Regions from separate parts of the Homo sapiens genome. Here regions 2, 3, 4, 5 and 6 are each linked to region 1. The links come from fine-mapping of genetic effects on gene expression. A gene starts in region 1. Each other region holds a variant in brackets. All regions are shown on one strand. Distances are from middle to middle. Region 1 holds the start of PAG1 (phosphoprotein membrane anchor with glycosphingolipid microdomains 1). Region 2 overlaps PAG1 (phosphoprotein membrane anchor with glycosphingolipid microdomains 1). Region 3 has its middle 23 kb from the start of PAG1. Region 4 has its middle 50 kb from the start of PAG1. Region 5 overlaps PAG1 (phosphoprotein membrane anchor with glycosphingolipid microdomains 1). Region 6 overlaps PAG1 (phosphoprotein membrane anchor with glycosphingolipid microdomains 1).

Evidence for each region. PIP is the estimated chance that this variant, and not a neighbour inherited with it, causes the effect.
Region 2: its variant is fine-mapped to the expression of PAG1 in whole blood (INTERVAL, PIP above 0.99).
Region 3: its variant is fine-mapped to the expression of PAG1 in whole blood (TOPMed, PIP above 0.99).
Region 4: its variant is fine-mapped to the expression of PAG1 in whole blood (TOPMed, PIP above 0.99).
Region 5: its variant is fine-mapped to the expression of PAG1 in whole blood (TOPMed, PIP above 0.99).
Region 6: its variant is fine-mapped to the expression of PAG1 in whole blood (TOPMed, PIP above 0.99).

Annotation. Positions count from the first base shown.
Region 1 is chr8:81,109,789-81,113,879 of GRCh38, forward strand. It overlaps PAG1 (phosphoprotein membrane anchor with glycosphingolipid microdomains 1), which reads right to left and starts at 2,280. Exons shown (of 9, transcript NM_018440.4): 1 at 1,803-2,280. RefSeq lists an enhancer at 1,726-1,795 and a silencer at 2,286-2,415.
Region 2 is chr8:80,967,238-80,971,328 of GRCh38, forward strand. PAG1 (phosphoprotein membrane anchor with glycosphingolipid microdomains 1) reads right to left here. Exons shown (of 9, transcript NM_018440.4): 9 at 573-4,091. Among named protein-coding and RNA genes, the nearest start is that of ZNF704, 95 kb to the left of the region's middle. The variant C/T (reference allele first, on the strand shown) is at 2,490.
Region 3 is chr8:81,133,196-81,137,286 of GRCh38, forward strand. No RefSeq gene overlaps it. Among named protein-coding and RNA genes, the nearest start is that of PAG1, 23 kb to the left of the region's middle. The variant C/T (reference allele first, on the strand shown) is at 2,028.
Region 4 is chr8:81,159,537-81,163,627 of GRCh38, forward strand. It overlaps a transcript of LOC105375924 not described here. Among named protein-coding and RNA genes, the nearest start is that of PAG1, 50 kb to the left of the region's middle. The variant G/A (reference allele first, on the strand shown) is at 1,812.
Region 5 is chr8:81,081,304-81,085,394 of GRCh38, forward strand. The region is part of intron 1 of PAG1 (phosphoprotein membrane anchor with glycosphingolipid microdomains 1); the gene reads right to left. Among named protein-coding and RNA genes, the nearest start is that of PAG1, 29 kb to the right of the region's middle. The variant A/G (reference allele first, on the strand shown) is at 2,054.
Region 6 is chr8:81,072,252-81,076,342 of GRCh38, forward strand. All of the region lies in intron 1 of PAG1 (phosphoprotein membrane anchor with glycosphingolipid microdomains 1), which reads right to left. Among named protein-coding and RNA genes, the nearest start is that of PAG1, 38 kb to the right of the region's middle. The variant T/C (reference allele first, on the strand shown) is at 2,467.

The DNA.
Region 1 (4,091 bases):
GTACAGATGAAGACACTGAGGCACAGACTTTGGGTTACTTGCCTAGATTCAAACAGATGGTACCAGAGCTGGCAGCCTGGCTCCATAGCCTGTCCTCCTAACCAGGCTGCAATAGGGCTTAATGGGTCAATCTGTTTGAGATTCCATGCTTGGATGTAATCTCTTCTAGAGATAAGCACTGGATGCTCTCACAAACCGCAATGTGTTGATGTGACTAACTTTTCAACTTCTGAAATAACATTTTGTGTATTTTCTTAGTATTCCTAAAAAAAAACCCTTTACACTTTAAATAAGGTGCCTATAACTAGTTCATCTTGTTCTGCATGCTGAAATACCATAAATAAATGCACTTCTCTCTTCAAAGATTATGTAAATAAATCTTACATTAAAACATACCCCTGAGCTTTGGTTTAAACAATAATTTCAAGTCCAAATTAAACATTTATGTATGTGTATATATATTTAGCAGGAAAGTCTTAATATGACCTATTTTGTTAAACTAATGACATCTATACCCAATACTCCAAATATTCCTCTTATTTATAATATTCGCTGTGTAACAGTCACACAGCAGTACTGCATGGTACTTCAAAGTACTATTCCTTTTACAAGTTTAACCAACTCAGGTATTAAACATCAATGATGATAATCCATAGCTCTGCTTAAAAGGAATCTCTCGGGAACAGCTGAGAAAGAAAGGTTAAAGATTTCTATCCTTCAAAGTAGGGCACTGCAGCTACCTATAAATCATGCTCTTTGTTTATTAAGATAATTAGGCCCATCAGTACACTTAACTTTTAGACTCAACAATTGTCTGGCATGAACAATTTCCACTTTTTCTAAAACAAAGGGGATGTGTTCAAAAAGCGGTCCTCTGCATGCTCTCTGCACAATGCATGCTATTTTAAAACATGATTTATGGGTCTAATTCCTGGAGCTGCCTTGAAAAATATAGTGGGTTGTTCCTCCCATGCTCCCTATTAGGAGAAGACACTCCAATTTGAAGAGTGCACTCTGTTTCAGACTTCAGGCCGCTATATCATGTCAGCATTTTCAGTAAATACTGTTCAATTGGACTTTAAACAAATGGAATGGAGGGCCACAGCTGCAGCCACTGCAGAGATAAAGTTATCCAGCCGGGAGGCTTACATAAGAGGTGCAGGACAATCAGGGTGAAATCCAAGTGTCATTATCTGAATCCTATTTCTTGAGACTTGCCTACATTCTTAAAGTGTATGAATTCACACGCCCAGAGCTCGTTTTATTTGCCTTAGGGCATAAAACACCGGGTCGACATATAAGTTGTTTTTTCCCTAAAGGACTAGGCTCCAATTATGAAAAGGTTGGCAACTTCTGCCTAGGGGAAGAGTAAAGCGGGATGCGCGGGAAGCCTGCAGGCCTGAAAGAAATGGCTCGCCCAAAGATCCATCGCAGTGCTGGCCACACTCCCCAGAGGAATTAGGATGGAGGTGACAAGACCCTGCCCAGCCCCTTCACCCCAACGTAAACACAGAGTCAAGGAGCTTGGAATGAATAATTAGCACGCAGCAGTCGAAATGCCCTAGGAGTACCTGTCCTCTCCCAGCATATTTCCAACTGGCACATTCGTGAGATGCTGAGGTCAGCCAGCCCTGGACTCCAGACCTTCCAGCTGCCTTGTCCCCTTCTTGGCACCCCGCACTCCCTCCTCGAGCTGGAACTCTGTTAACAAGAGGTGCCACCCTCGGCTTCCCACAAGAAGATAAAAACGAACCTCTCCTTCCCACGGCTCCCTCCAACTTCAGAAACTACAGTCAACTTACTGGGACTCAGGAGGCAGGGAGTCTTCCTGGCGGACGGCGCTCGGAGGCAGCCTCTGCAAACTCCGGCGCGCAGCGCCGCCGCCCCGGCACAGCCCGGCAGCAGCGGCAAGTGCAGGACCAGGCGCCGCCGCTCTGCACCAGTCGCCTTGGCTCAGCTGTGCCGGGCGCCGGGCATTCGCCAGGGCACACGACTCAGCGAGGCGGCGGCTGGGACTGAGGCTACTGCACCCGGCCGCGCGGACCCGAGCGCTGCAGCTGCCTCCAGCCCCGGAGCGCGGCGCTCCGAGCCCCTGGTGGGTGTCTCTGGCTCCAAGGGAATCACGGCTCAATTAGGGACCTGCCAGGAGAAAAACCGATGCGCTGCCGCAGGCAGAGCCGCCAGCCCGCCCCCAGTCGGCTGGTCACATCGCGGGCGCGCAGACGGACAAGCGAGCGGGAGGGTACCGCAGCCAGCACTCGCCGCCGCGCCGCGGAGAATGACAGGCGCCGAGGCGGAGCAGCCGCGCGGGGAGCGGGGCGCGAGTGCGCATGATCCTGGCCGCAGCGGCACGTCACGGGGGAGGAGGGGCGGGCCGCGGGGCGGGAGGGGGCGAGCCGGGCGGGGCCGGGCTGGGGGTGCACACGGGTGAGGACCGGCGCGGGGCCTGGCTTGCTCGCGGGAGGATGCAGGAAGTCTTCCCTGCCCTGATTTTATGAACCCAAAGCTCTGTGGTTGAACTTGTCCCAGGAGCCCATTGTCCTTTAAACAGCACCGTTTAAGCGGTCCTTAAGGTCCCTGGGGAGCCCACAAAAGCCAATTTAATTCAGGTTACAGCTTAACCGTAAAGGGTTGCCATTTGGGGGACAGTGATCTTCTATTGTGGCTGTGCATTAAAATAACTTGGGGAGCTTGTAAGAACCCTTTGCCCCGGACGCATCCCAGAACAAGTACAGGACAATGTCTGGGTGGGGCCCACCCAGGTATCAGTAGGTATCTAAAGATACCAAGGTACAGCAGTGCTTCTCAAACCCTCAGTGTGTGACAGAATCTCCTGCGGATTGTGATGAGATGCAAGATTCAGATTCAGTAGGCCTGGGATAATGAGGGAGACATCCTTTCTAACAAGCTCTCGGAGGATGCCAATACTGGAGGTCCAGACCCCCATCCTTGCTACTTAACGTGTGATCTAGAGCCTGGAGCAGAGCTTCTGAAACAGTTGGCCTGTCTGACAGTCACCCGAGGGGCTTATAAAAAACGCAGAACAAATGCCCAGGCCGTACCCCCAGTGATAGTGGTTCTGGCTCAGCCCCTGGCAAAGGTGGGCTTCTAGAATTCCATTTGGCATCAACACTCTAAATAAATCTGATAGGGGTTTTGTTTGGGCCAAACTTCAAGTTTACACTAGCAACCTGGAATTGGGAATAAACTTTTGCACTTACAAGGAGACAAACCAAGTCTAGAACTCAGGACATCTGACTTTGAGTCAGGGATTCTAAACCAACGGGTGCTTTATCTGACTAGTCCCAATTTTCTAAAATTATGATGCATTACTTAGCAAGAAAAAACATATAAATGGCATTAAATATACACACACACACTCTATTGAACACTCGTTACACATATCATTAATGGGAGCTTAAAGGTGGCTGGGGAAGAAGGCTCATCAGGAGAGGGTAAGGAAGACAGTGATGGAGTAAGGGATGTTGTTAGTGTGTCGCAGAGGGAAGGGTATGTGGGAGGAAACAGTTTAGACTCAGCCTACAGCTTGGAAAAGCCCATTGGGGAAGCGGACCCAGGAACCAGACTTGGCCTCTTGCTTCAGAGCATGGTATGAAACTCAGGTGTTTAAGAACTTATGGAGTATAACATTTCACATACGTTACCTCACTGAAATTTCACAGTGGTCTCTTAAGTTGAATAATAATATAAAAAAGTATCCCCATTTTATATATTAAAGAAGACATCCTGGACATGAGTTGACTAATGGTGGAACTTGAATAAAAGTAGGGATCTCCGTGTTGGACTTGGCTTCTACAACTCTGGAGAAGAGGACAATTTAGACCTTATAAAGCAAATGGTTTCTGTGTTTACTAGTCACATCTTTTACAGGCTGTGCCTAAATTTGGAGTTAGGAAGGCTTTCATTCTTGTGGGGAGGAAATACATTTTGTGTCTTCCAGTTTTGCTACACTTGTTAGGATACACTTAGAACAAAATGTTCTAAGAGCAACCCGGTCCTAGGACATTGCAGTTCCACAGTGCAGGCTTCATTGAGGAGTTTGAAGGGCAATATTCACGTTATCTGGTGAC
Region 2 (4,091 bases), 140 kb before region 1:
AGGGGGCAGCCAGGTCAGATGGTGGTTAAAGTCATTTGCTCTGAGACATCCTGCTGGGGCTGCATCCCCTTCACACAACAAGCAGATGGATTTTCCTCTTGGCCTGGGGAATTATTTGCTCTCAGGTTGCACATCTTCATAGGAGTGCTTGGCAAGTGTGGGTAAATGCCATCAAAAATTTCCCAGCCCTTTTGTGAAGATGGTCTCTTACCATGCACAGAGCACTTAGCACCTTGCCAGGTACCATGCTTAATATCTCATTTAATCCCCAGGACAACCCCATTAGCAGGTTCTATACTATAATCCCCCATTTCCTAATGTGAAAAGGAGGGCACAAAGAAGTCTAACAGCTTCCTCAAAGTCATGATGGAGCCGGGATTCAAACTCGGGTCCTTTTCTGCAAAGTTTTTGATGCTAACCTCTACACACTTTGGTCTGATTACCAGGAACATTATCTTTCCTGTTATGGTGGTGAGTTGACTGCTGGAATCCCAAAACCCTGGTAATGTATGAAAGGTACATAAATTAGCCATTCTTGACCTTTTCAAATACCAAATAAATTTTAACAAGCCTTTATGTAAAACTGACTTTTATTACAATTAAAAAAGAACAAAGACAATTTGATAAGTGCCTTTAATTACAACATACCTGCTATTTACATGTAATCATACTTTTATATATAGCTTGAATAAGTTTTATTACATGTAAACTATAAGATATTACAAGTTAAACTCCAGTCTTTTCTGGATATTCAATTGAAATACTACTGGCAGAAACATACGAAAACAAATACCCATTTCAGTTCCTCAGGTACCATTACTGGTTGAATGATCAAGATCTGGCCACAGAAGAGAAGTGGAAATATGCATCAAAACAAAACTTATTCTTAACATGACTAACAGTATTGTTATTTAAACCCTAAACATAATTAATAATTGGATCATTAAAAACACAACTTCAATTTATATAGCACCTTTCTTCCGAAGAGTTGAAAGCATTCGTGCTTATCTCTATTATTTCGTTTGTCCCCATAACATCTCTATGAGGTAGGCAATGGTTAGTATCATTATCCCCATTTTGTATATGGAGAAACTGAGGCACAGAGAAGTTAAATCATTTGCTCGAGGTCACATAGTAAAGTCAATGCTGGAACAGGGACCACAGCCCTGTGCTCTTGTCTCCAAAACCCATGTTTCCCTTTACACTAAATTGTCCCACTTGAGAATTTAATTCAATAACTCTACACTTTTCCAATAAATAAAAAAGTGCATTTTTTTCACCCATAAAAATTTTTGAAATACTATGAGCAAGATACAAACATTCTGGGATGGATGGTAGATGGATGCTACACTCTTCTAGAAAGTGCTTATGGAAATGTTTATTTTAATATGAGGAGTTTCTTTTCCTAGTTAAAACAAAGTAGATGTCTTTACAAGAAATATATTTGAAAAAATGCTTCTAGTCACCTACTCAATTATAGCTCTAGTAGCCATATTATATTATCTACAAACCAGGTTTATTCCTGAGTTTAAAAAGAAGAAAATATCTAAATAATAAGTTAAATCTTTGAGATAATTTTTCTCATTTACACACATTTACTCAAGAGACTCAGAGTGGCAGATAGGGAATTGGGCCAACACATTTCTCAGAGAGACATGAGAACTGAGACACACAGGGGCAGCAAGTCTGAATTTTGCTCTCATCTCTGCTCCCTTCGCCCCACTAGAGTCAACTATACGGTTGATACTCGAAGCAAATAAAAAGATAATTTTTAAAAAGTGTCAAGGTCGCAAGCATACTAGAATGCTCACAAATGTTTGCTGACTTGAACGTAAGGTTCAGCTTTCCTGATGCTTTTCACATTGCTTCTCCTCAAGACATGAGCATTGCTGCAGGCATGGCCATCTTCCAGGACATGGGCGGGTAGTGGCACATAGGAATTAAATCCTAGCATGGCTCCAGGAAAAACAAGACAAGTACTATACTCAAAAAGTAAAGTTAAAAAAAGCAAGCATGCTTAAGGGATGGGTCATGAACACCACATCAGGTTCATTTATGAGTCTTATATTAAAAATACATAGAAGCTTGTCAAAGGAATGCTCAAAATCCTCAACCCATAGACTCAGGCTTTTGGTCCCAGCCTCTTCTTCCAGAGAAGGGCACTGCTGTCTTTCAGGGAAGCCTTCACTACCTAAATGAGGAGCTAAAGATTAAAAAAAAAATTCTCTTTAAGCTTAAGAAAAGGAAATAGTTTGCTTTAAACTCATGGTTTCCAACTTGTTGAGTTAAAAACAAACCAAACCAAACCAGGACATGACAACAAGATAGTTCTGAACTGTAGGCTCTAGGGAGCAACTGGTCCTTCTTTTAGCTTTAACTGTGTCCTATTTAGAGTGCCTAACAGGTATACTAGGGGAACTTTAAAAAACTAAATGTATAAAGAGAATGAGCAGAGATATCTGTTCTGCTAATTTTGAAAAAAAGTTACA[C/T]TCTAAAATGTCCATTCAAAGAATTAACTGTGATGACTTACAGCAAAGTTTTACAAAACCAAATGAAACACCCTGGCTCCTGAAGTATGTAGAAAATGGGAACTTCAGCAGCTGCACCTCCAATTCACCTATCCTAGGACCTAGAAGGTGCTTGGTTTCTCACTCCAAAGTCAGGCAGTTTGCTATAAATGGCCAAGTTATTCTCCTTATCTGGTAGCTCTACCTTTGCATGCTGAAGCACTCACAGTTTTCTTAGGTCCTGGGGGATCAGAGCAAACTGGCTGTAACTTGACATCATCCTTAGGCACTGTTTCCTGGGGGAGAGGGTGCAATGGCTTCATGGTGAAAACATTTTACACTCAATTTACTTTAAAAAGGTTTTTTTTTTGTTTTTGTTTTTGAGATGGAGTCTTGCTCTGTCGCCCAGGCTGGAGTGCAGTGTTGCGATCTCAGCTCATTGCAACCTCTGCCTCCCAGGTTCAAGTGATTCTCCTGCCTCAGCCTCCTGAGTAGTTGGGACTACAGGCACATGCCACCATGCCTGGCTAATTTTTTTTGCATTTTTAGTAGAGACAGGGTTTCATCATGTTGGCCAGGCAGGTCTCAAACTCCTGACCTCAAGTGATCCACCTGTCTCAGCCTCCCAAAGTGCTGGGATTACAGGCATGAGCCACTGCACCCGGCCTAAAAATGATTACTTCTTATAAAAAGGATTTCTTCCCCTTCACAACACTCAGCTTCCTTTTTCTTTCCTGGTAACTATGGGTCTGGTGTTGTCATAAGGATCTACCTTCCACATGCTGGACAGTGGGGGTTGCTGCTTGAGGAGACTCAGGCCAGATACAGATCACTGTGGGGAACACTAAGCTTACTTGGTTAGAGCACGGCACTAACATTTCTGCCTCTGTGAGTTTGATTCCACCACATAATTTTTTAAAAGTGCTTTTCCATGGCCCCTTAGTGTCAACCATTCTTACGAAAGATGTGAGCAACAGTGTACATGTTTTGGCAAAAGTCGTGACAAATAGCACCAGCATCTGCCGCCCTAGGTGGACCTGTGGCCTCATCTTGGCAGCCTGTGAGTTGGGCAGAGCTGTGACGAGGCATGGTTCTGTGCCGGCTGGCAGGGTCTGTGATATGGCAGCACTGTGATCCGTACTGGAAAGACATAATGGCATGTCCTGTGAACAGCAGATACAGAAGGCTGAGTGGGGAAGCGACCCAGGGGTATTGCCACACAAAGCGATAGGCCAGCTAAGTACCAGGAGACAAACTGAGGTGGGAGGAAATAGTGACTTCATGGCCTCATTCTTTAGACTTACTCCTTAAAAGGACTAGATCCGGGGAGGGAAAAGTAATCACAAAATGTTCAAGCTAATAAGAGATATTTTTGGTCTTAAAACTAAGGTTTAAAAATTCCCAGTACTGAAAACAACTTTCTCACTCTTTTGTGAATTGGACAATTTGACCATTATGAAGATCTTTTGAAACAATCAATGAAAATGCTACTAAGTGTCATGAATTATTTTTTAATATTTTTGAGTAAGGGGAGTACTTTAATACTGATTGGGCCCATGTAATAGACAATATGTCACTTTTGGT
Region 3 (4,091 bases), 23 kb after region 1:
AGCCTTCAGTAACTCCTTTTTGGCCAGAAAATAATGCTGCAACATGCATTGAAGGTTTCTGAAAGCTTGACCTTGGCTTCATTTACACCTCTATTTTTAGAGTATTTCTCCCTAATTTCTATTTTCCAGCCACAGACAACTTCGCACCATAATCTGGAGTTTGAATGCAGTGTGAAGCCTCTGAGCTTTTGCTCACTCTGTTCCTATACCTCCATACTCTCCTGAGCCTCTCAAAATACTACCCTCCTTTCCATATCCAGGCAGGTGTCTTTCTTGAGCCATCTATTCAGAATGCATCACTTTTGTGTTCAAATACCGTGTGGTTCAGATGTCTACTTGGTGTGAATTTCACTTTACTTTATTTTATGTCTTTCCTTCAAAGATCTAGAAGACAGAAACTATATTTCTAGGACCCTGCTAGGTCTTGTGCTTAGTGGTGGTCATTTGATGAGTGTTTACTGAAAATAAATTAACCCAAATGCAGGAGAGGACGTTTGTTTGTGAGGAGGTGAGTTGCAGGAAGAAAGATGGAATCATCTAAGGAAAGTCAGAGACATTTCTGTACACATTGTCACTGAATTCTCTTTGCTTCTCAAGGAGAGGCCGAAGATTTCCTTTCCTGGAACTTGAAACAGAGTGTCCAGAAGGCTTGAGAGATAAGGGGCAGGGAAGCAAAGATGTCTTCCCTTTTATGGAACTCTTTGGGAGCCCAGCTCTAAAGGAGAGAATCAAATCCGTGTTTTCCTGTGTAATTCTTCCCTTTCTTTCTTACGTGTACCTGTGTGGTCCAGGATTCTCCCTCCTAGTTCTCGTGTGGTACCTGTGTGGTCCAGGATTCTCCCTCCTAGTTCTCGTGTGGTACCTGTGTGGTCCAGGATTCTCCCTCCTAGTTCTCGTGTGGTACCTGTGTGGTCCAGGATTCTCCCTCCTAGTTCTCGTGTGGTACCTGTGTGGTCCAGGATTCTCCCTCCTAGTTCTCGTGTGGTACCTGTGTGGTCCAGGATTCTCCCTCCTAGTTCTCGTGTGGTACCTGTGTGGTCCAGGATTCTCCCTCCTAGTTCTCGTGTGGTACCTGTGTGGTCCAGGATTCTCCCTCCTAGTTCTCGTGTGGTACCTGTGTGGTCCAGGATTCTCCCTCCTAGTTCTCGTGTGGTACCTGTGTGGTCCAGGATTCTCCCTCCTAGTTCTCGTGTGGTACCTGTGTGGTCCAGGATTCTCCCTCCTAGTTCTCGTGTGAAGATTAAACTGTGAAGTTTCTTCTCACGTCTGCTGATGTTTACCTTTGGGTCCCCATCACCCAGCCGAGGGCCTGACAGGGAGTGGGCACAGAGTAAATGGCTGGAGCAAGCTGCACAGAACTAACTGTGGCGTGCAGTGAGCGAGGAAGCAGAAATCTGATACTCAGAGGGCGATTGCGAAGGAATCACAGGGAGAATTACAGTGACTGAAAAGTAGCAGGAGGTGAAAGGACAGATGGCAGGATGCAGTAAAGAAAATGGAAGGGAGACACTTGGCTTTGCCATGATTAGTTGAACTAGACGACTTTGGACCCACAATAGAAGTAGAAATATTAATTGGATTCAAGTTAGCAAGTCTTTATTGCACGCTCATTTCTACAATGAGCCATCCTCATTTCTGTAGCTGAGTAAAAAAAAGAGTAGAAGAATATGACTAATTTCTGATTGCAAAGTAATTATAGTTCAGTTGAAATACATGTACAAACACACGTGAGATTGTTTAATTATGACACAGTAGAATATGACATCGAACTTCTTTCCCCTGCTGCATTTAACTTACCCATGAGTCTGAATGGCTTAATGTACAAAATAGACCCCATATCTGCCAACTTTTCTCCATGTTCCCCATACAAAGTCTCCACCTCTTTTGTCTCCCCTGGACCTGCAACAACCTCTTAACTGGTCTGCCTCATTCTAACTTTGTACCCTCATGGTCCATTCTCTGACCAGTAGTCAGAGAGATCTTTCAAAAAACACAAATCCTGTCTTGCCACTCTCCTGCAGAAAACC[C/T]TCCCATGCGTCTGGGTGCACCTGGAGTAAAAGGTAAAGTCCATGCGGGATCTAACTCTTGCCTGACTCTCAGCTCCTCTCTTCATGCCTCTCAGCATGCTTCCCTGTGCTTACTCTCCTCCTGCCACACCGCCCTTCTTCCTGTTCCCCCTATCTTTGCAGGGCTGGCTCCTTCTTGTCATTCAGGTCCCAGCTCAGATGTCACCTCCTCAGTGAAGCCTTCCCTGACTATCCCCCCAACCTAAACTATCTGTCCCCTCTCCAGCCACTTTCTTGTATTACCCTGTTATAGAGCTTCATAGTACTTAGCAGCATCTGAAATGTGTAAAATGCATTTATTGTCTGTCCCCGCCTCCCAGAATGTCCCCAGCTCCTTAAGAGGAGAGATCTCGTTTGTCTTTTTCATTGCTCTATTCCCAGTACCTAGCCTGATATCTTGTGCATAGGCAGCTCTCATCAAATAGTTATTGGGTGAATGAATAAAAAACAGGAATTATTAGAGACAAAGAATGGAGATTGTAGCTCAGGGTAGTTGGGCAAAGTGCTTGGAGGAAGAAATATTATTTTAGCTATGAAGAATGGTGTGGGGAACAGAGGCTAAGAAGCAGCAATGTGCACATTTTTGTCAAAGGAAGACCCTGGCCAGGCTGGAGCAAAAGGTACACAACAATAACAGTGGGGCAGGTGTCATGACAGGGAGTTAAATTTGTATGGAATCAGAGGGCAAAAGAAAGTCATTACACTGCCAAACTGTGTGTGTGTGTGTGTGTGTGTGTGTGTGTGTGTGTATTTTGCCTTAGGTGGCAAGACATTGAAATTCCACAGGGTGCCTAAGAGCTAGGATATCTATTTATCATCTTATTTCCAATTTTGACAAATATGAAACAAATTATAGTCCCTGAATCATGAACATAATGAAAAAAAGTTAGTCGACCCCATATATTTCATATTTATGCCAGTGATGGTGATTTGATTTGATTTTTTGTCTCCTCTGTTTCTCATGAAGTGGTTCACTATTTTGATAGAGCAGCTCCCTGAATTATTCAATCGAGGAATAGTTTTCGTTTGCTTGATGTTTCATTTTCTCTCAGGAATGGCCCTTATAGAATATGCATTTCTTTTCCTTGAGTGAGATAATGTATGTGAAAGTACTTTGCAAACCATCAGGCGCTAAGGAAATGGAAGGTAGAATGATTATTACCTTTTAAGGTCTTAAGAGACATAAACTACTAACAGCATCATCTTATTGCTCTGCTTTTCTTGCTTTTTGTTGCTGTAAAAAGAACTATTTCCTCTCAAGAGATTATTCTCTGCTACAGTCGGGAGGCAAACATGTTTGTCTATACATCGTCCAGTTACTACCTCTAAGAAAATTAACAAAACTCAGATGTTCCTGAGATAAATGTTGGATAAACCATTAGTTGTAGAGAATATTCTTTGTCCAGAAGAACAAAAATATTAAAATTCTGCCGATTTTAAAAAAGCGCTTCTTCCTGACATCCCTCCTTGGCTCTTCCCTTGTGAGCACAGAATGTCCACATGCAGACTCGGGAAGAGTGGCAGTTCCTGTGATCACCTAAGTTGCCATGGACGGCAAGGATTGGGAGACTTCAGTTTTATGTTCTAGTTACCAGTGAAACTGCCCCATTAAATATTTTAAGGAACACATTCGAAGTATGAAAATATTTTCTAAAATAGAATCCATCTCTTCGTTTGTCCTCTAAATATAGCTGATGTGTCCATCATGGGACCTGATCATAATATTTTTATGGTGACATTGATGCTTTCTTTGCAATTTTTGAAAAGTAATAATTTTCTCCATGTTATAGCTATCATAGGAAAAAGCTGTTCTTGGAAATACTGGGATGCCTGGGCCCATCTCCATTAAAAAAGCGAGACTTCAGCAGCCACAAAAAGGAAAGAGATCATGTCTTTTGCAGGGACATTGGTGGGGCTAGAAGCCATTATCCTAAGCGGACTAACACAGGAACAGAACAGCAAACACCGCACGTTCTCACTTATTAGTGAGAGCTGAACAATGAGGCCACATGGACACAGGGAGGG
Region 4 (4,091 bases), 50 kb after region 1:
ATAGTGGTCTTATATTTAGCCTCAAACTGAAATTTATGTCTTATTTTATTATGGTTACTTAATATTTTAAAAGACTATGATTCATCGGGCGTGGTGGCTCACGCCTATAATCCCAGCACTTTGGGATACCGAGGTGGGTGGATCATGAGGTCAGCAGTTCGGGACCAGCCTGACCAACATGGTGAAATCCCATCTCTACTAAAAATACAAAAATTAGTGGGGTAGGCATGGTGGCGGGCACCATATATCCAACATTATGGTACAGTCATTTGTTGCATAACAACATCTCAGTCAACCATGGACTGCATATACAAGGAATGTGCCATAAGATTATAATACTGTAACTTTACTTATCTTTTCAATGCCTGTAATCCCAGCTACTCAGGAGGCTGAGACAGGAGAATCGCTTGAATCCAGGAGGCGGAGTTTGCAGTGAGCTGAGATCGCGTCATTGCACTCCAGCCTGGGCAACAGAGCCAGATTCTGTCTAAAAAAAAAAAAAAAAAATGGACTATGATTCATAGAGTCAAATAGTTATAAATATTAACAATCTCAGAATTTTATTTTATTTTATTGTATTTACTTATTTATTTATTTATTTTTTTGAGACGGAGTCTCGTTCTGTCACCCAGGCTGGATTTCAGCTCACTGCAACCTCCAGCTCCTGGGTTCAAGCAATTCTTCCACCTCAGCCTCCCGAGTAGCTGGGATTACAGGCACGTGCCACCGCCCCCATGCCCGGCTAATTTTTGTATTTTTGTAGAGACGGGGTTTCACCAAGTTGGCCAGGCTGGTCTAGAATTCCTGACCTCAAGTGATCCACCCGCCTCGGCCTCCCAAAGTGCTCGGATTACAGGCGTGAGCCAGCATGCCTGGCTTCAATCTCAGAATTTTCTATTAAACAGAAGGAACAGAAAAACTTTCTGAAATTTGCATAAAGTTATTTTATATTGCATAAGTTAACATGTTGATGGTATTCAGTGATAAATTTTATGTATATATATTATTTAAATCATTCATTTATTCAACATATAGTTATTTACCATGTGCTATTCTCAACAGCTAGTTATTTACCAAGGCCTTATTCTCAATCATGTACCCTCAATATGGTGATAATATGCCAAGGGAGAAAATATTAGTTATTGAGGGTGAAAAATGTTAGATATTGAAATGGTTTGTGGCCCCCCAAACATAATCATATATACAGCCTATCTGTGGTATTAAAATTTCATAGGGTGGCGATTAGGAAAAAAGATGCCTGAAAAAGTCCTAGGGGAACAATAATGAAAAAAATATTGAGAAATACTTTTTCAGATACTGGGAAAACAGCAATGAACAACACGGAAAAGAAAACCCCTGTCCCGATGGAGGTGATTTTCTCATGGGGAGGATGAGCTAACAATAAACAAGATAAATAAGTAAAATATATAATGTGCTATGGAAAGAAAAAAAGCAGCACAGGACAATGAGAACAGTCAATTAAAGGAAGGAGATAGGAAGTGGATGTGTGAGAGAAAGGGCATTGGCACTAGCTAAGGTGACCATGGAAATCTGAGTAAAGAAATTCATGGTCGAGGGAGCAAGGGAGGAGCTCTCCAGAGATGGAACAGGCTGTGCAAAGGCCCTGTGGAGAGAGCGAACCTGGCACACCGGAGGACCAGCAAGCCTGTGTTCTGGGTGAGGAGGCCAGGAAGGGTATTAAAAGGCCATGCCAAAAAGTTCACATGGCCCAAGTCACAAGGGTTATGTAAAAACCTTTTGTAATGTTCATGAGAAAAGAAGAAGTCATGGGTGTGTTCTGAGGAGGACAT[G/A]ATGTAATCTGACTTACGTTTTTACCAGGATCACTCTCAGCACAATGCTGAGAATGGGCTGAACAAGGCAAAGGGAACGCCAAGCAACTAGTTGGGAGGGGTACTAGGTGGCTCAGGCTGCCAAAAGAAAATAGCACAGGCTGGGTGTCTTAAACAACAGACATTTATTTCTCATGGTTTTGGAGGCCGTGAAGCATAAGACCAAAGTACCAGCAAGGTAAGTGTCACTGGGAGGCCTCTTCTCTTAGCTTAAAGGCAGCCACCATCTCGCCATGTGTTCATATGGCCTTCCCTTGATGGGTGTGCCTGGGTTGGGGGAGGAATTAGGAGAGGAAGAGGAAGAGAGGGAGAAAGAGAGCGCTTTCTTGTGAGCCTTCTAATAAGGACACTAATCCATTGTACCAGGGCTCCACCCTCATGACCTCATCTAACCTCCCAAAGGCCCTGTCTCCAAATACCAGCACATTGCAGGTTAGGGCTTCACTTATGAATTTTGGGGAGACATAGACATTCAGTCCACAACAAGAAGCTACTGCAATAATCCAGGTGAGGGATGATGGGAGTTTGGACAACGTGGTATGGTAGACAGAAATGGTTGGACCGTGAATGGGGTTTTAAAGGTAGAGCAGACAGAGCAGTGTTGCTTGATCTAATGTGGAAGATGAGAGAAGAGAGGAGTCAAAGATGTCTAAGGGTTTTGCATACACAGGTTATCAGTATTATTTTTACTATGGTTTTCAATATTGATAAGTTGAACAGGATGCACCAAAGCACTTAAGATTCTTTGGAACACTAGAGTTTGAAAATGTTTGGTCTAAAGAGTCTTAATTTGTAAATAAATGTGAGAGGCATTTGAAATTAAATTTATTTTTGTTTGACACAATGGCTGGGAACACCTGGCATTTAAAGGACAGGGGCCAGGGATGTAAGCAATCTTACAATGCATGAGAGAGTTCTGCACAAAGAAAGAAATGTTCTGTCACTAATTCTAACAGCACTCCTATTGAGGAACACTGGTGGAGTTGTTTTCATGTATTTGTTATCTTTTTAAAATATTTTATTGCACTTTGATGCAACAGAAAACAGTATCTTTCGCTGCCAATTATTTCAGGTACAGTTTCCCCCAGCTAAGTTCTAAAGGCCTTGAGGGCAGAAGTCATCTTGTATATTTCTCTTGTATCCTTATACAGTGAAAGCAGAAAAATACCTTTATTTTGCTATGTCTCTTGTTTTCTCCATATGCAGTGGCATACTCTCATTTTATCCATTTCTGACAGGAATGAAAGAAAAGATATACGCAAAGTGGATTCTAATCATAGGTGAGGACTAATTTTTGTTTTAAGGACTCAGCATGCAGGAAATAATATACAAGTATTAGCTCTTATTAATGATAACAATGGGAGGCATATATAATTTCTTGATTAAAGCAAATGCCAGCCTTAGTTATCAGGTTTTCTTTTTGTCATCACTTTGCCCATTTTCTTAAACTCATATCTTTACAATAGAATTAAATTTTTTTTGGCTAAATCAATCAACAAAAAGTCTATTTTCTAAATCACAACATAATCCCAACTCTCTAATAGTTATTTCTTCGTGTTATTTCACAAATTTTGTCCACATGTAGTTAATTTTTAAAAATAAAATCTTTATTTTTTAGAGCAGATTTCAGATCACAGAAAAATTGAGTGGAAGATATAGAGATTTCCCATATGTCCCCTGCCCTGAGACATGTATAGCCTCCCCCATGATCAACATTCCCCTCTAGAATGCTACATCCATTACAGTTAATGAACCTACATTGACACATCATTATCACCCGAAGTCCATAGTTTACATTAGGGTTCACCCTTGGTGTTGTACATTTTATGGGTTTGGATAAATGTATAATGACCTATATCCAACATTATGGTACAGTCATTTGTTGCATAACAACATCTCAGTCAATCACAGACTGCATATACAAGGATGGTCTCATAAGATTATAATACTGTAACTTTACCGTATCTTTTCAATGTTTAGATATGTTCAGATACACATATACTTACCATTGTGATATAATTGCCTATAATATTCAATGTAGTAACATGCTGCCTAGGTTTGTAGACTAGGAGCAATAGGCTGTATGTGTAGGCTACAGCATCCAGATTGGTAGAAGTATATTCTGTGATGTTCGCACAGCAATGAAATTGCCTAATGGCGCATTGCTCAGAATGTTTCCCTGTTGTTAAGTGATGCATGGCTACGTCATACAGAGTAGTTTCTCTGCTCTTAAGATTCTCT
Region 5 (4,091 bases), 28 kb before region 1:
GTGTTTTCAAATTGATGTAGCTACAAGAAATTTTTAAAAGTTATTTTTTAAATTAAATTTTAAAATTTTAGATAGTTATAGATTCACAAGCAGTTACTTATAATAAAGAGGGATCTCATGTACCCACTGCTCAGTTTCCCTCACTGGTAACTTCTTGCAACACTATATTACAACATTACAACTAAGGTAAACACACTGATAGAAGGAAGATATAGAACATTTCCATCACCAAGTATTACTCATGTTGCCCTTCTGTAGCCCCACCCACTTCCCTCCTGTCCCTACCACATCCTTAACTCCTAGCAATCGTGAATCTCATCTCTATTTGTACGACTTTATCATTTAAAGAATGTTATATAAATGGAGTCATGTTACATGTAGCCATTTGGGATTGGGCTTATTCACACAGCATGGCTCTCTGGAGATGCACACTAGCTGCTGCATATATCAATAGCTCCTTTGTTTTATTGTGGAGTAGTATTCCACGATATGGATGTACCGGTTTGTTCAGCCACTCATCCATTAAAGGATATTTGGGTTATTTCCAGTTTTGACTATTACAAATAAGGTTGCTATAAGCATTAATACACAGGTTTTTGTGAGAATGTGACTTTATTTCTCTGGGATTAAATGCTGAGGAGTGATATTGCTGTATCTCAAAATCCTTGGCCGGGTATGGTGGCTCACGCCTGTAATCCCAGCACTTTGGGAGGCCGAGGCAGGCAGAACACCTGAGGTCAGGAGTTCAAGACCAGCCTGGCCAACACAGCGAAACCCCATCTCTACTAAAAATACAAAAATCAGCCAGGCATGGTGGCACACACCTGTAGTCCCAGCTACTCGGGAGGCTGAGGCATGAGAATTACTTGAACCTAGCAGGCAGAGGTTGCAGTGAGCCGAGACTGTGCCACTGTGCTCCAGCCTGGGCAACAGAGTGAGACTCTGTCTCAAAAAAAAAAAAAAAAAAAAAGAAAAGAAAAAAAAATCCTGAAATTAATTACCTCTGCAAAATCCCTTTTACTACATTAAAAAATAAAAAGAAAAAAGGAACCTGATTCCCTAGTTCTGGGAATCAAGACATGAACATCATTGGCGGGGGAGCCATTATTTGGCCTACTACACTCAACTCCTTGTATCTGTAGGTTTCAGTCTTCTGTTAAATGTGGCAAGTCTTCAGCTATGATTGCTCAAGTACTTTTCCAGCCCCTCCCTCTTCCTATGCTTCTTATGGGTCTCTAATGACACAAATGGTAAATGTCAAGTGTAGTTCCACAGGTCCTTGAGGCTCTCTATTCTATTTTCTCTCTAGTGTTGAGACAAAATAATTTTGATGGTTCTCTCTTTACTGATTCTTTCCCCTGTCCCCTGCATTCTGTTGTCCAGCCCATCCACTGAGATTTTTATTTGGGTTACTGTATTTTTCTGTTCTAAGATGCCCCCTAGGTTCTTCATTATATTTCTTATTTATTTCCTGAGGTTTCTATTTTTTCATTTGCATCCAGCATGTTTAGAATTCCTCAGTGATGCATTTTTATGATGGCTGTTTTAAAATCCTTAGCAGACAATTCTAACATCCCTGTCATTTTGGTGCTGGCCTCTGTTGACTGCTTTTTTTTTTCTTCATTCAGTGTGAGATCTTCCTGGTTTTTGGTATCACAAGTGATTTTTTTTTTCATTGAAACCTGGACATTTTGGGTATTATGTTATGAGACTTTGGATCTTACTTAAACTTTCTATTTTAGTTGCCTTCCTCTGTTACCACTCCCAGAAGGGAATGGGGAGACTGTGTTATTATTGCTGGTTCATCCTGATTACTGGGGTAGAATCAGGTTCCCTACTACACCTCCCCTGATACCTGAGGGGGATGCATTCTTACTGCTAGTTAGGAGTGGGAGTTTTGGCTCTCCATCGGGCCTCCAACAATACTTCCTGGCTGGGAGAAACAGTGTTTCTGGTTCCCACATGATGTCCACTAACACCACCCCAGTTGGAGAGGAAAAGGGCTCCTCATTACTGTTAGGAGTTGGGGAGGGTAGAAACCCAGGTTCCGCAT[A/G]TGGTTTCTACTTACATGGGGTTGAGGTGGAGGCTCTTGTTACTACGCAGCAGAAATAAAAGCCTTGGCTCCCTACTCAGTTTTCTGTGACACTACCCAGTGGCGAGGGCTGGGGTGCCTTGGGACACCCCAGCTCTCAATTTAGAGCTGGCAAGGGTGGAAGTTTAGGCTTCCCTATCAGCTTTTGCTGGTAGGGTGAGGCCACATTTTTTTTTCTGTGGGGCTTGGCTAGAGTACAACAGTTATTATCTAAAAGTTTTCCATTTTGCTAGGCTCTACCTTTTCTAGTCCTCTGGTTTCAGAAAACAGATTTTCATCTTTTACTTATTTGTTTTTGTATGTGCCTGTTGGTGTTTTCCACTTGCTGCCTTCTTCATCAGGAATATATGGGATCTCAGTCAGGTGTGGTGGCTTACACCTATGATCCCAGCACTTTGGGAGGCTGAGGCGGGTAGATCACTTGAGGTCAGGAGTTCAAGATCAGCCTGGCCAACATGGTGAAACCCCATCTCTACTGAAAATATAAAAATTAGCCAGGCGTGGTGGTGCATGCCTGTAATCCCAGCTACTTGGGAGGCCGAGGCAGGAGAATCACTTGAACCTGGGAGGTGGAGGTTGTAGTGAGCCAAGATGGCACCACTGCACTCCAGCATGGGCAACAGAGCGAGACTCCATCTTAGAAAAAAAAAAAAGGGAATATGTGAGCTCTGGGAAATACGACTCAAAAAGAAGAAAAGCCAGGTAACTCACTATTGTGTGTTGCTTGGGTTTTGAGGTCTATAGATATTCTGCCATCTTTCCTCTACCTTTCAGAGTCTTCTTACGTTTGTTTTATGAACAATGTCTAGGAATTTTAGTTGTACTTAGTGGGAAGAACAGGGAAAAGTATGTCTACTCCATGTTCCTGGAAATAGAACAAATTTTTCATTTCATTTTGAGGTTAAAAATTAGAAACCTCATTAAGTAAGGACATTGCATTTGCTATGCTGAAAAGGCTGCATCCAATAGTAGCAAAAGTTTACATAAAATCAATTTAAATACTTTCAAAATACTTTAAGAAAAACTTCAAAACCATGTATTTAACCCTTAAGAAAATCAATTTTAAAATAATATATTTTAAAGTTCTCAAAAGGTACCCAAATGATGTTAGTTAACTTTTTGTTTCAATATATTTCAAGAAAATGAAAGGAAGGGACTTTTTCTATGTGGGTGTCATTTTGCAATTATTACCCTTAATACGAGAGGTTTTTAGTTTTCTTCCTACTTTGGTAATTATTTGAAGGCTTCTTTCTTTCCTAAGCTGTCTATAAGAAGTGGCTACACAGGTCTTACGTAAGATTATATTTATATTATCTCAAAAATTTTCTTCCCAATGGCTTTTTATGGGATTTAAGAGAACTGGATGTACATTATGAGTGTCAGTCACGATATTAGAGCAGACAAGTGCCAAAAATTACATCTATTTTCCTTTAACCAACCCTTTATTATAAGCAAAATGTACAGAGTGGCAAAAACACAGTGAAAAGTAATGGAAATCTATGTGAAATACATTAAGATGAAGTCCGTTTTCTTTTTTTACAGTTCAACATGAAAGGTTACTGTTAAGAAATTTGAGAGAAAGTATCAGAGTCAAATAAGATACAATGAAGGGCAAGAAATGTATAAATACAAATACTCTTCAAATTGATGAACGCACTTTAAAACAATCTAGGAGTAGCTCTGAGTTAAGATGGTTGTTGGGCCTTTACTTGGAATAGTTCTTAGAAAAATCAGGGCTCTGATTTTATGCTCCATGTGCCAATTAGAAGCAAATGGCGATTCCTCCGGCTAGACTCTAAATTCATCACATTATTGCTTCATATAGCCATTTTCTCTTCCTTCGTTGAACAGAAGGAAACTGCATGGTACAGTAGTCAGTGAAATGTAAAATAAGGATTAACAAGCCATTCTGGAGATTTAGCAAAATGAAGCTTCATCAACCAGCTTGACTCACAGCCAATCCAGCAAAAAGCACCCTAGAAAGAAAACTAAACAGTGA
Region 6 (4,091 bases), 38 kb before region 1:
GTCCCACTGTGTCCTCAGCCAGTCACATCCTTCTCAATTCTCTCCTTCATTTATTTAGAGTCCAATGAGGAAATAACTATAAACACCAATGTAAAATACATGCTCTAAAACAGGGCTTTCAACCCTGGCCTTGCTGACATTTGGGGCTGGAGAATTCTTTGTTTTGAGGGGCTAGCATTTCCTGCCCTGAGTTGTAATAAACAAAAATGTCTCCAGACTTCAACAAATATCCCCTTAGGAGCAAAATCATCCCCATGTTGAAAATCACTGGTCTAAAATGAATGATGACTTATTAAAACACAATAATTTGAGCATAGTGGCTCACACCTATAATCCCAGCTACTTAGGAGGCTGAGGTGAGAGGATTGCTTGAGCCCAGGATTTTGAGGCTGCAGTGATCTATGTTGTGCCACTACACTCCAGCCTGGGCGACAGAGTGAGGGCATCTCTTAAACACAAACACATACTCACATACTCTCATATTTATATCTTAACTTTCATATCATGCAGAAAAACAGTAGTGTGGATGGGGACCATTGGAAAGGGCATAGATGAGGGAGTGGGTGCATGTAAAAAGCACCTGTTGTATTCTCAGCCCTGCATGAGGTCAGTTATCTCATCCAATACGCACAAAACACCCTGTGCTTTTCCCTCTGCATCACAGCTGCTCAAAACCTTGAGAGACAATGATTTAGTGCATGCTGACAATGTTATTAAAAGCAGAACTCCTCAAAATAAAATAAGAAGTATTGCTAGATATGCCTTTCCTTCACTTTCAGTAGACTGAACGCCTGACTCCTTGAGAATGACCAGCACAACATATTTTCATGGCAATCAACTTCATTCTGTGCCATCTTAGGACATTTCCACTGCCAACTTGTCCTGTGGTTGTTTTCATCAGGATTGGCCCACATGGAGTCCTAGGCATAGCCATGATATATCTCTTTTCCTCAAACCACAGCGAATTAGGCATATTTAGCCTGCAGATTTGTAAAATAGAACTGGTTACAGCTCTGCTAGTGTCCCAAGTGAGTATGACAATGCTACGGAGTGCAGAGCAGTGTCGGGTGGTTAAATCCTGACTCACACTACCAACCTCCCTGAGAGCATCAAATGAGACAAGCGACAGGATTCTCAGATGGAATTTGATGTTGGTCCTTTCCCCTCCTGATCCCCAAAGGGCCTGGTGGGCTCAACAATCTCTAGTAAATTCAGCATATTCAGGTCCAAAAGTATCCCTGAACAGGGATCTTCCTTAGCCTTGTCTATTCAAAAAGACCGGGAGTGGCTTTTTAAATACATGTGTGGATATGCAGTTCTTCCTAGTTGGCTTTTTCTGATTCTGTCCAAACACAATCACATCTCCCATGCTAGTATCTATCCAAATACTTTCTTTAAGGAGAATGTCCATATGTCAGCCACTATTCTAGGTGGGGGTTTCGATATTGACCAAGATGAAATTCCCTGTCCTATGTATCTTTCTAGTGGAGGTGGGGAACAAACCCACCATCTAGCAGCATAGCTGTGACAATCACTGAAGAAAACCACAGAGGCACTGTGGAGGTAGGGACTGCCTGGGGAGTGGGCGCTGCTTTGAGTTGGGGAGTCAGGAAAGGCAGCACTGAGAAAATGTTAGCTGAGCACAGACCTGAAGGTGGGGGGGAGGCAGGTCAGAGGGGGCTGGTTCCACTGGCCCCTCCATGTGCCCACCTTGGGCACCCCTCAGAGAGCTACAGCATGCCTGGTGCTTCCACACCCACTGAGGGGAGCACTGGCCAGGTGTGGGCACACGTGCAGACATGTGGGCAGATCCAGGAAAGGCAGCAAGATTATTAGCTGAGAATGAGGATGGAGAGGGAGGTATTTGAGGTTTGAGGACAGGACACAAGAAGATGATCCAGAAAAGCAGAACAATGGACAGAATAGCGGCACAGGGACCCACTGAGACGAAAGTGGGACCTGTGAGCACAGTGATGTGTGTTCCTTCAGCCGCACTCACCAGTGTAGGTGAAGATGTGGCGTGGGGAGAGAGCTGTGTTACGCAGGGTTGGGGTTTTGCCAGTGAGGATCATGAGGGAAGAGGGAGCAGCAAAGAACCTGAGGGTGGATGCAAAAGAATAATTATAACACAAGATCATGGAATCTAAGCTAGATAACTAGGAAAGGAGAACTGGAGGGGGTGACAGACAAGGAAAATTAGCAGGATCACTGGATGGTGAGTACTGGTGGGCCACAAATGGTTGGAGTTAAGGCACAGGGGATAGAAGACAGAAGGTGGTGATCAGAGGATGAAATGGTTGAGGAGAGAGTGGATTAGACACTTGCTACTTAAAGTATGGTCCCAGACCAGCAGTTTCTGCAGTATCTGGGGACTTGCTGAAAATGGCAGAATCTCAGACCCTACCTCAGATCTACTGAATCAGACTCTGCATTCTAATAAGACCCCCAGGTGATTCACACTAAATT[T/C]GGGGAAAAACAGCCTTAAACCACTGTCACATCTGCACCATGCTGGCTCAATTTGCAGGCAACCAGAAGCCACAGACACCCTATAAAAAAGGGTGAGTGAATAGCATTCTGAGGTTAGGAAATTCCCTGGGGCTCTGTTTCCCCTTCAAACAGCTCCACTTTAAGTCGCTCATTTTGGTTTCTTGGGTTTCTATCCAGCTGCCTCATGCTCTTGTTCTGCCAGGCCTTGCAGTCTTATGATATGGTTAGCAGGCTTAAAATTCAATTTCCCAAAGAACGCTGCCCCTCCAAATGCTGGTTAGCCTTCCCTCACTGTCTGTAGGCAAAGAGCATCTCCTTACTTCCTGCAACCAGGTACCTATCTCCACTCTCGTTTGCCAGAGAGAAGGCAACCAGATACTTAGTGTCCTCAATTCAGCCTGTGTAATTCCATGTGTCCATATAGATCTATTCCAAGACCCTAATGCAAAATGTATAGTATTGCCATTTGTGGCTTTTTAGAAGTTTAGCTTCCTGCTATATAATAGTCAGGGTTTTGTATCTTCTAGTATGAGTAGACTGACTTGCCTCTTTATAATTTTATAAAAAAGAGAAAACAGTTGTGTATGACATTAGCATGAAAGATGAGGTTGAGTCTAGTTAATGGAGGCTTTGCCTCCTTAAAAGCTTTATTCATAATAAAATGAGTGTGACATTTTCATGAACCCAGACACTACCTCCTGTACAAACACTTGCATGTGAAATAATTAAGAATCTCTAACTTCTTTAAAGACAAGTAATTTCAGATGCTGTCGTGTATGAGTTTTACTATGATTACTAATAATCAAGTACTATTTGCAGACACCATGCTATACATTCCATATATCCTCATCTTACTTAATGCTCACAAGGATTCATACTATTGTTACACTGATCCTACAGATGGGGAAACTGAGGCCTAGAAATGTGAAGTGACACAGCCAGTGAGTGGTGGAGCCAAGTTTCAAACCCAAGTGCACCTGATTCCACAGCAGCTCCTCACGCACACACACAAGATAACACACAGCTGAAGCCCAAGAGCGTGGCACACACAGCTCCCTCCGCTTTCCCGCATCTCTGAGCATACACATAGTCACTACTAAATATTATATGTGCCTACTTGAGTTGAGAAGGTGTAAACAAGGGTCTCTAATCTCACTGTTGGTAAATATCTGATACAGAGACCCTTGCTTAGATGTGACCATTTTCTAGATCTGTGATAATTCTTGTAGCTCTTGCTAAGTTACAATAATCAATGAAATGAGCCATCCTGACATCACTCTGCTAACCTGTGATACAGTTATAACAAACTGGCTTATCACTACAGGTACCTGAACACAATCTCTGTTGGTTGGTGACCTGGCCTCCGGGAACAGAACCTGTTCTGCTTTCAAGAGAAAATGCCAGCAATGACTTCTTATCTGATCCTTTCCCACACCAAGGCAGATCAAGTCCTTAGGTCAGTTCAGCAAATGCAAATGTGTACAGAAGAAACAGAATCAAATCCAAAGCTTCCCATGTGAATTATCACAAGGCTTTGGACATACCAGTTTCCTTCTTGGTATCACCTAACAGCCCATGATTCAGAGATAACAATGTCTAGCTCT